Linked DNA regions of Homo sapiens: all the other regions are linked to region 2. The links come from fine-mapping of genetic effects on gene expression. A gene starts in region 2. Each other region holds a variant in brackets. All regions are shown on one strand. Distances are from middle to middle. Region 1 overlaps NCOR1 (nuclear receptor corepressor 1). Region 2 holds the start of ZNF286A (zinc finger protein 286A). Region 3 overlaps ZNF286A-TBC1D26 (ZNF286A-TBC1D26 readthrough (NMD candidate)).

What was found. PIP is the estimated chance that this variant, and not a neighbour inherited with it, causes the effect.
Region 1: its variant is the best candidate, but not a certain one, in a credible set for the expression of ZNF286A in whole blood (INTERVAL, PIP 0.58).
Region 3: its variant is the best candidate, but not a certain one, in a credible set for the expression of ZNF286A in whole blood (INTERVAL, PIP 0.78).

What each region holds. Positions count from the first base shown.
Region 1 is chr17:16,184,270-16,186,769 of GRCh38, forward strand. It overlaps NCOR1 (nuclear receptor corepressor 1), which reads right to left. Exons shown (of 46, transcript NM_006311.4): 3 at 2,285-2,418. Among named protein-coding and RNA genes, the nearest start is that of NCOR1, 30 kb to the right of the region's middle. The variant G/C (reference allele first, on the strand shown) is at 1,557.
Region 2 is chr17:15,698,739-15,701,440 of GRCh38, forward strand. ZNF286A (zinc finger protein 286A) reads left to right here and starts at 1,014. Exons shown (of 6, transcript NM_001130842.2): 1 at 1,014-1,039; 2 at 1,397-1,628; 3 at 2,414-2,502. The coding sequence starts at 1,592. ZNF286A-TBC1D26 (ZNF286A-TBC1D26 readthrough (NMD candidate)) reads left to right here and starts at 1,014. Exons shown (of 23, transcript NR_171000.1): 1 at 1,014-1,039; 2 at 1,310-1,628; 3 at 2,414-2,502. RefSeq lists enhancers at 711-1,322, 758-807, 818-1,137.
Region 3 is chr17:15,727,366-15,730,218 of GRCh38, forward strand. The region is part of intron 6 of ZNF286A-TBC1D26 (ZNF286A-TBC1D26 readthrough (NMD candidate)); the gene reads left to right. Among named protein-coding and RNA genes, the nearest start is that of TBC1D26, 3.5 kb to the right of the region's middle. The variant G/A (reference allele first, on the strand shown) is at 1,656.

The DNA of each region.
Region 1 (2,500 bases), 490 kb after region 2:
TCAGCAGCCTGTAGACACAGAAAACATATTTGTAAACTATGCATCTGCTAAGGAATTAATATCCAGAATTTATAAAGAACTCATAAAACTCAATAGCAGAAAAACAAATAACCTGATTTTAAAATGGGCAGAAGATCTGAATAGACATTTCTCAAAAGAAAACGTAAAAATCACCAACAGGTATATGAAAAGATGTTCAGTATCATTAGTCATCAGGGAACTGTATATTAAAAGCACTATGAGATATTCTCACACCCATTAGGATGCCTATTACCAAAAAAAGTCAAAAGATAACAAATATTAATGAGGGCATGAAGAAAAGAGAACTCTTGTACACTGCTGGTGGTAACGTAAATTAGTACAACCATTATGGAAAACAGTATGAAAGTTCCTAAAGCAATTAAAAATAGAACTACCACATGACCCCACAATCCTTCTTCTGGATATATACCCAAGGGAAATGAAATCACCATCTTGTAAAGGTAAATGCACTCCCATGTTATTGCAGCTAATTATTCACAATAGCCAAGATATAAAAACAATCTAAGTGTTTGTCAATGAATGAATCATAAAGAAACTGTGGTATATATACACTATGGAATATTATTCAACCCTAAAAAAAAATGAGATCTTGCCATCCACAACATGGATAAGCCTGAAGGACATTATGCTATGTGAAATAAACCTGACACAGAAAGTAAAATATTGCATGATTTCGCTTATATGTGGAATCTTAAACAAAAAAAAAAAAAAAAAAAAGGAACTATACAAAGAGAACAAAACAGTGCTAACAGTGGTTACCAGGGGCAGGGGGTGGAAAGAAAATGGGGAGACGAAAGTCAGAGGATGTAAAGTAGCAGACACATAGAATGAAAAAGTCTAGATTTCTTATGTACAACATGAGGACTACAGATAATAATATAGTGCTGTATCTGGGATTCATGATAAATGAGTAGATTTTAGTCGGTCCAGCCACAAAAGCAAAAATAAAAACAAAAGCAAAAATAAATAACTTTGTGAGATGATGGATATGCTAATTTGCTTCACCATAGTGACCTTTTTATTATCTATACGTATCCCATAACATCATGTTGTATGCCTTAAATACACACAATTTAAAAAAAAAAATTCTGGCGAGGTGCAGTGGCTCATGCCTATGATCCCAACACTTTGAGAGGCCAAAGCGGGCAGATCACTTGAGGCCCAGAATTCAAGACCAGCCTGGTCAACACGGCAAAACCCCATCTCTACTAAAAACACAAAAGTTAGCTGGGTGTGGTGTGTATGCCTGTAATCCCAGCTATTTAGGAGGCTGAGGCATGAGAATCACTTGAACCCTGGAGACGGAGGTTGCAGTGAGCTGAGATCATGCCACTGCACTCCAGCCTGGGTGACAAGAGTGAGACTCTTTCTCAAAAAAAAAAAAAAAAAAAAAAAAAAGAATTAACTATTTTGGGAGGTAGGGGTGGGTGGATCACTTGAGCTCAGGAGTTCAAGACTAGCCTGGGCAACATGGCGAAATCCTATCTCTACAAAAAATACAAAAAATTAGCCAG[G/C]ACTGGGAGACTAAGGTGGGAGAATCACTTGAGCCCAGGAGGTTGAGGCTGCAATGAGCCATGATCATGCCACTGCACTCCAGCCTGGGCAACAGAGCTAGAAAGATCCTGTCTCCAAAAAACAAGAAAAAACAAACAAAACTTTCAGAATGAGAATGAAGTAAAAGAAAGCAGAGATGGTAAGGACACTCAGGAAAAAGAGAACCCACCATGCATGTACAGGACCTACATTATCTGACAGAATATTTACTATCAGTTGAGGACAATGCCACTATTATCTCCATTTTTATAGGAGGGAAAACTAAAGCTTGAAGAGTTGAGATCAGTGACTGGCAACCCTAGCTGCAAATCAGAATTACCGGAAAAACTTCGGCGATAAAATAAAGCCTGGGCCCAACTCCAGAGATTGATTTAAGTGTTTTGTGATGAGGCTTGGGCATCCCAAGGGGTTCTAATGTGCAGCCCAAGTCTATAGAACATAACCAAGGACACACAGGTGACCAGGTGGTTTACTGCCTTTCTACTAAATAATATTAATGCCAAACTATGGAAACAAGTTTTAAGAGCTTGTTAACTATTGCAACCAACCAACAAAAAAGAACTCAAAATGCAAACTATAAATGACCAGTCATGGCTTGGTTAATAAAAAGTAAAAAAATAAAATAATGACAAACTTGTATACTTCACAATTATAATCCTAGATAGAAACATAAAAGAAACCTCATTACCTGTCAGAACCTGGGTGAAATTCTGAAAGCAAGGAAGGTCGCCTTCGAAGCTGTTGCTGCTGCTGTTGCTGCAAAAGCTGTGATGCCTGACTCACTTCAAGATGAGAGGAACGATAATCAGGGACTGCGAACTCCTAGTATTAAAATAATCATAAATCAATTATTAACCAAAAACTGAACAACATCATGAAATCAAAGCAAGTATAAAGGTAGTTA
Region 2 (2,702 bases):
TAATAGCATATTCTTGTTTTAGAAAGAGCACTAGCCAGAAAGTGTGGAGAACAGATTGGTGGTAGAGAAAACCTTAGTTAGGGAATCCAGTTACCAGGCTGCAACGGCAATCCTAGTGAAATGGTGGTGGCCCCAACTAAGGTAATGCTACTGAGAATAGAGAAAGATGGAAACAATTGAGTTATTTAAGATACAATGAATAGGACTTGGTGATAAATAGATGGTGAGATCAAAGAGTTAAGAATATTCAGGCTCTGGTTTGTGCAAATGAGTGAGTGGGCAGTAATGTCATTCACTGAGAAAAGGAGGGCAGTCTAGACACGAAGCTGGAGGTGGATGGGTTAGTCCTCTAACAGAATTGGAGAGACTGAATAACTCTCCCTTGAAAGAACCACCTTTTATGATATGTTTAAACTAATGCTTATGTCTGCAAAGAACCTATTGCTTAAATTTGTTACAACAGGTTCAATCTTTTCAACTCATTTTAAATACATGAATTTTAGGATTACAAGTAGTCTGTGGATACAGGAACATCTGACTGAGTGTACAAAGAGGGACCTGCTCTTCCTAAAAACATCCTTCGTATGTTTTGAAAGCAAAAGGATGAGTTCTGGGCGCACAAAATATGGATAAAAGCTATGTATTTTAACGTATCTTACACCGGAGTAATTTGGGTTGAACTCAGCAGCCCTAAGCACTGTGCCGCAGGAACTTGTGCAGACAAAGCGCGGGGACGGACCCTGACTCCGGTCCGCGTCTCCGCTGCTCCCTCCCTCCCTTGCTCTGAGGATTAGACACAGGAGATGCTGCCTCATACTCTCGCGAGACGGACGGAGCTCTTCGATCGTCCGATTCTCCCAGCCGCACCACGGGTGCTCCCACCTGCGGAGAACCGGAGTCTGGCGATGCCAAGGCGCTTCTGGGAATTGTAGTTCCGGGCGGGATGAGGGCAGCACGCCTGGCTCCGCTCCTTCTTACGCATGCGCGACTCCGAGCTGGCCAAAGAAGTTCGTCCCCTTTGTGAGGCCCGGGATGGGAGGTGAGTTGCTTGTGGTGATGTCGCTCGTCTCGGCTCGGCCTCGGCGGTGGTTCCCCGGGTCGTTCTGTGCCGAGTCGGGGCTAGAGTGCGCGTTTGTTAAAGGGGCCTCGAGGGCAGACCATGAGCCCTGTCCCTTCTCACTCTGGCCTGATCCTCTCCTCGGGGGACGCGGTTGTGCCACGGGCGGGGTGGTCGCGGGGTTCTGGGCCAGTGCCCCGAGCGCGGCAGAATTTGTCCAAACTCCTGATGCCCCAGCGTCACCTCTTCCAGGTGCCCGGTTCCCCCAGGGACAGCTTCAAGCGGTAGGGACAGACATCTGAGGACCCAGCCTCAGGGATGCTGTCCCCGGGCTTCCAGGCTCCAGCGCCGTAGGACTGAGGCAGACTCCACGGTGAGAAAGAGACCCGATCTAACCCAGGCCTTTCATCAGAGCCCAGGAGGGAAGGCAGGAAGTGGGACCACGAGGCCCGGGGGGCTTCTAACTCGTCTGGCCAGGGAGATCTGAATTGGGGTGAAGAGCAGAATCTCCAGAACAAGGAGGAGGTGGTGATCATGGAGACAGATTTGGCTGAAATGCCTGAGAAAGGAGGTGAGAATTGCGGACGTGTTGAACTTGTAGCGTGGAAGGACGAAATTCCTGCTCCTGAAGGGAAAACGGTTGGCTCAGGGGAGGTGGCTCTTGGCTGGCTGTCTCCATTGTCTTGGGGATGGATGGGCTTTTTAAGTGAGACTGAAGGGCTTGGTATGGGAGCACCGCCCTTTCCATGGCAGCTGGGCACACAGTGGACCCTTCAAAGCTACCCCCAAAATGTGAGTGAAATGTTAACTTCTATGGCAAGAATTCACCTCTTTGGTTGTCAAAAATGTTTTGTTTTACATAGGAGAAAACAGGCGTAGTAGTTAATGACTGACTTCCATTCTACCTGACCAGTTTCATGAAGGTTGTGCTGTGACCTCCTACACCAGAATTCCCCCTGGGGTGGTTGTTAGATTTCTGGATTGTACCCCAGGCTCAACTAATGCTTATTACTTTGAGGTGGGGTCCAGCAATCTACATTATAAATAAGCTTTCAGAGTGAGAACCAACGAGTATAGATTAAACTGGGAAATTTACTGACATATTCTAATTTCTAGATCAGAGGATGCCATCTTACAGAATGTGTTATGATTATAGCAACTGAATTCGAGCCCAGAGTAGCAATATTCCCGCATATCCCGGGAAGAGGGTCCTGGGAGGAGGTCGGTTGTTTTGGGGGTACCTTCAGTCTCAGTGTTTGTAGGCAGCACATATAGTATGTTGAAGTGGTTTTTAGACTTTAAATCTGAGTGGCACGTTAAGCCTAGGTCTCATCATTACTGCTTTCTTGTCGTTAGCTCTGTCTTCCCAGGATTCTCCCCATTTCCAAGAGAAGAGCACAGAAGAGGGAGAAGTGGCTGCTCTGCGCCTCACGGCCAGATCCCAGGTGAGTGAGTGCTGATTATTGGAATTACACCTTGTTTCTTAGAGTACAGATGCACTCCCTTCTTTGTGATGTGGAGTTTCTTTATCCACTAAAGCCCATCTGCAGAGCTGAGTTCTAAATCTAAGAGACTAGTCAGGAGACTAATGGACTCAGAAGAAAATGTTTTCTACTTATAACACTGGATGGATTTCTTCCCTATT
Region 3 (2,853 bases), 29 kb after region 2:
CTGCCCTCGTGATCCGCCGGCCTCGGCCTCCCAAAGTGCTAGGATTATAGGCGTGAGCCACCGTGCCCGGCCTAATAAGCTCTTTGTTTTTTCCTTTTCTTTCTTTCTTTCTTTTTTTTTTTTTTTTTGAGACTGAGTCTGGCTCTGTCGCCCAGGCTGGAGTGCGATCTCCGCTCACTGCAAGCTCCGCCTCCCGGGCTCACGTCATTCTCCTGTCTCAGCCTCCTCTCCTGCCTCCTGTCTCAGCCTGTAGCTGGGTCTACAGGCGCCCGCCACCATGCCCGGCTAATTTTTTTTTGTAGTTTTTAGTAGAGATGGAGTTTCACCGTGTTTGCCACGATGGTCTCGATCTGACCTCGTGATCAGCCCGCCTCGGCCTCCCAAAATGCTGGGATTACAGGCGTGAGCCACCACGCCCAGCCAAGCTCTTTCTTAAAGAGAAGATATTTCCACCTTTAACTGACAAAATCCCAAAAATTTATGTCAAGAATTTATTTTTAAAAACTTCTCGAAGATCATTTAGAAAGATTGATAACCACATTGGAAAAAGTATAAAAAATTGCATAGACCCCTGAAAATATGATTATATACATTTTCTTTTTTTGTTGTTTTTTTGAGACGGAGTTTCGCTCTTGAAGCACAGGCTGGAGTGCAATGGCGCAATCTCGGCTCACTGCAACCTGCCTACCGGGTTCAAGCGATTCTCCTGCCTCAGCCTCCTGGGTAGCTGGGATTACAGGCGTACGCACCACCATGCGAGTTTCGCTCTTGTCCCCCGCGCTGGAGTGCAGTGGCACGTTCTTGGCTCACTGCAACATCTGCCTCCCGGTTTCCAGCAATTCTCCCACCTCAACCTCCCGAGTAGCTGGGATTACAGGCGCCTGCCACCATGGCGAGCTAATTTTTTTTTGTATTTTTAATAGAGACGGGGTTTCATCATGTTAGCCAGGCTGGTCTCGAACTCCGGACCTCAAGAGATCCGCCCACCTCGGCCTCCCAAAGTACTGGGATTACAAGCATGAGCCACCGTGCCCAGCCTGATTATATACATTTTCAATAAACATTTATGAAAGTGGTATCAGGCCTTTTAATAATCAGAAGACCAAAATAAATGAAAACGAAATAACATTATCCACTAACCAGAATATGTAAAAGGAAGACTGACAAAATCAGGTGTTGGAAAGGACATCTAATTAGAACTCTCAAACTTGTGGTTGGGTTATATATTAGTCAAAAAAATCTTTGGAATTAAAATTTAATTGATAAATTGTATGTATTTATGCTATACCACATTTTACATACACACACACACACACACATTGTAGAATAGCTAAATCTGTGTATATATATGTATAGCAACAGACAGACATTGTAGAATGGCTAAATCAAGCTACCTAGCATATCAGTTACCTCAGATACTTATCTTTTTTTTTTGTGGTGAGAACATTTAAAATCTGCTGTCTCAAAAATTTCAAGTATTACCACATTGTTATTAACTGTAGTCAACATGTTGTACAATAGAGCTCTTGAGCTTTTCCTCCTAGCTGACATTTTTAGTGACATGCGTTGCATTTGAACATATGCAGTTACCATGACCAAGCTATTTTATTTGTAGGGCTGTACTTAACTAAAATATCTATACATGTGTACCAAAA[G/A]AAATTAACAAGAATGTTCATAGTGGCTTTATTGCTAGTAGTCCCAAAATGGAAACAAACCAATGTCCATCAACAGTAGAATTGATAGATGTGCCATATTCATGCAGAGCACCACCGAGCAGGGAAAAGAAATGAACTGCTTGGGCCGGGCACGGTGGCTCACGCCTGTAATCCCAGCACTTTGGGAGGCTGAGGCGGATGGATCACTAGGTCAGGAGATTGAGACCATCCTGGCTAACACAGTGAAACCTCATCTCTGCTACAAATACAAAAAAATTACCTGGGCATGGTGGCAAGCGCCTGTAAGTCCCAGCTACTCGGGAGGCTGAGGCAGGAGAATGGTGTGAACCTGGGAGGCAGAGCTTGCAGTGAGCCGAGATCGCATCACTGCACTCCAGCCTGGCCGACAGAGCGAAACTCCATCTCAAAAAAAAAAAAAAAAAATGAACTGCTTCATGAAACCACTTGAAGGAGTGTCACAAATGTAATGCTGGGCCAAAGAAGCCACACACAAAACCATTCCTACTGAATGGCCCTCCATGCTTCCATTTATGAAACAGACAACACTAATTGGGGCTGCTAAAAACCAGGTGACTCTTTGCTTTGACAAGACAGGTGGGCAGTGGTTAGGGAGCAGACCTTCAGGAGAGGGATTTCCAGATTGTTATTTTTATTTCATTTTCTTGGACTGTGTGGTAGCTCCAAGCATGTGTCCTCTTTGTGATAAATCACTGAGTAGTAGAATAATAGGATTCCTGTGTATATTATACTTTAATAAACATATTTGAATTCCTTTTTCCATTAGGACAAATAATATAAATCATAATAAATCTTTGCAATTTTAGTATTATTTCTAGTTGATGAAAAATAAGCCACCTGAAGGATTCCAAACTTGCGTATTTCAATATAGAACTTACATGTTCTAATATATATTTCTAGAGATCCAAAACTGTCTGATTAATGTCATTTGAGTGTAAAAAAGCACAGTTATGTTTACAATTTGCTCTCTAATCTTTTACTTGAAGTTAAGCTAATTATCCACATCCATCAATAAAACTGCTTTCACAGAAGAGTCCAATCCATGGCATAAATGACAGGAACTTTAGAAAAGTCGTTTCTTCTTCATTATTTATGTAAAAACATTAAATTTCTTAGAAACACAGGCCAGCAAACTCCCAGTTTAGTGTTGCTTTCATTG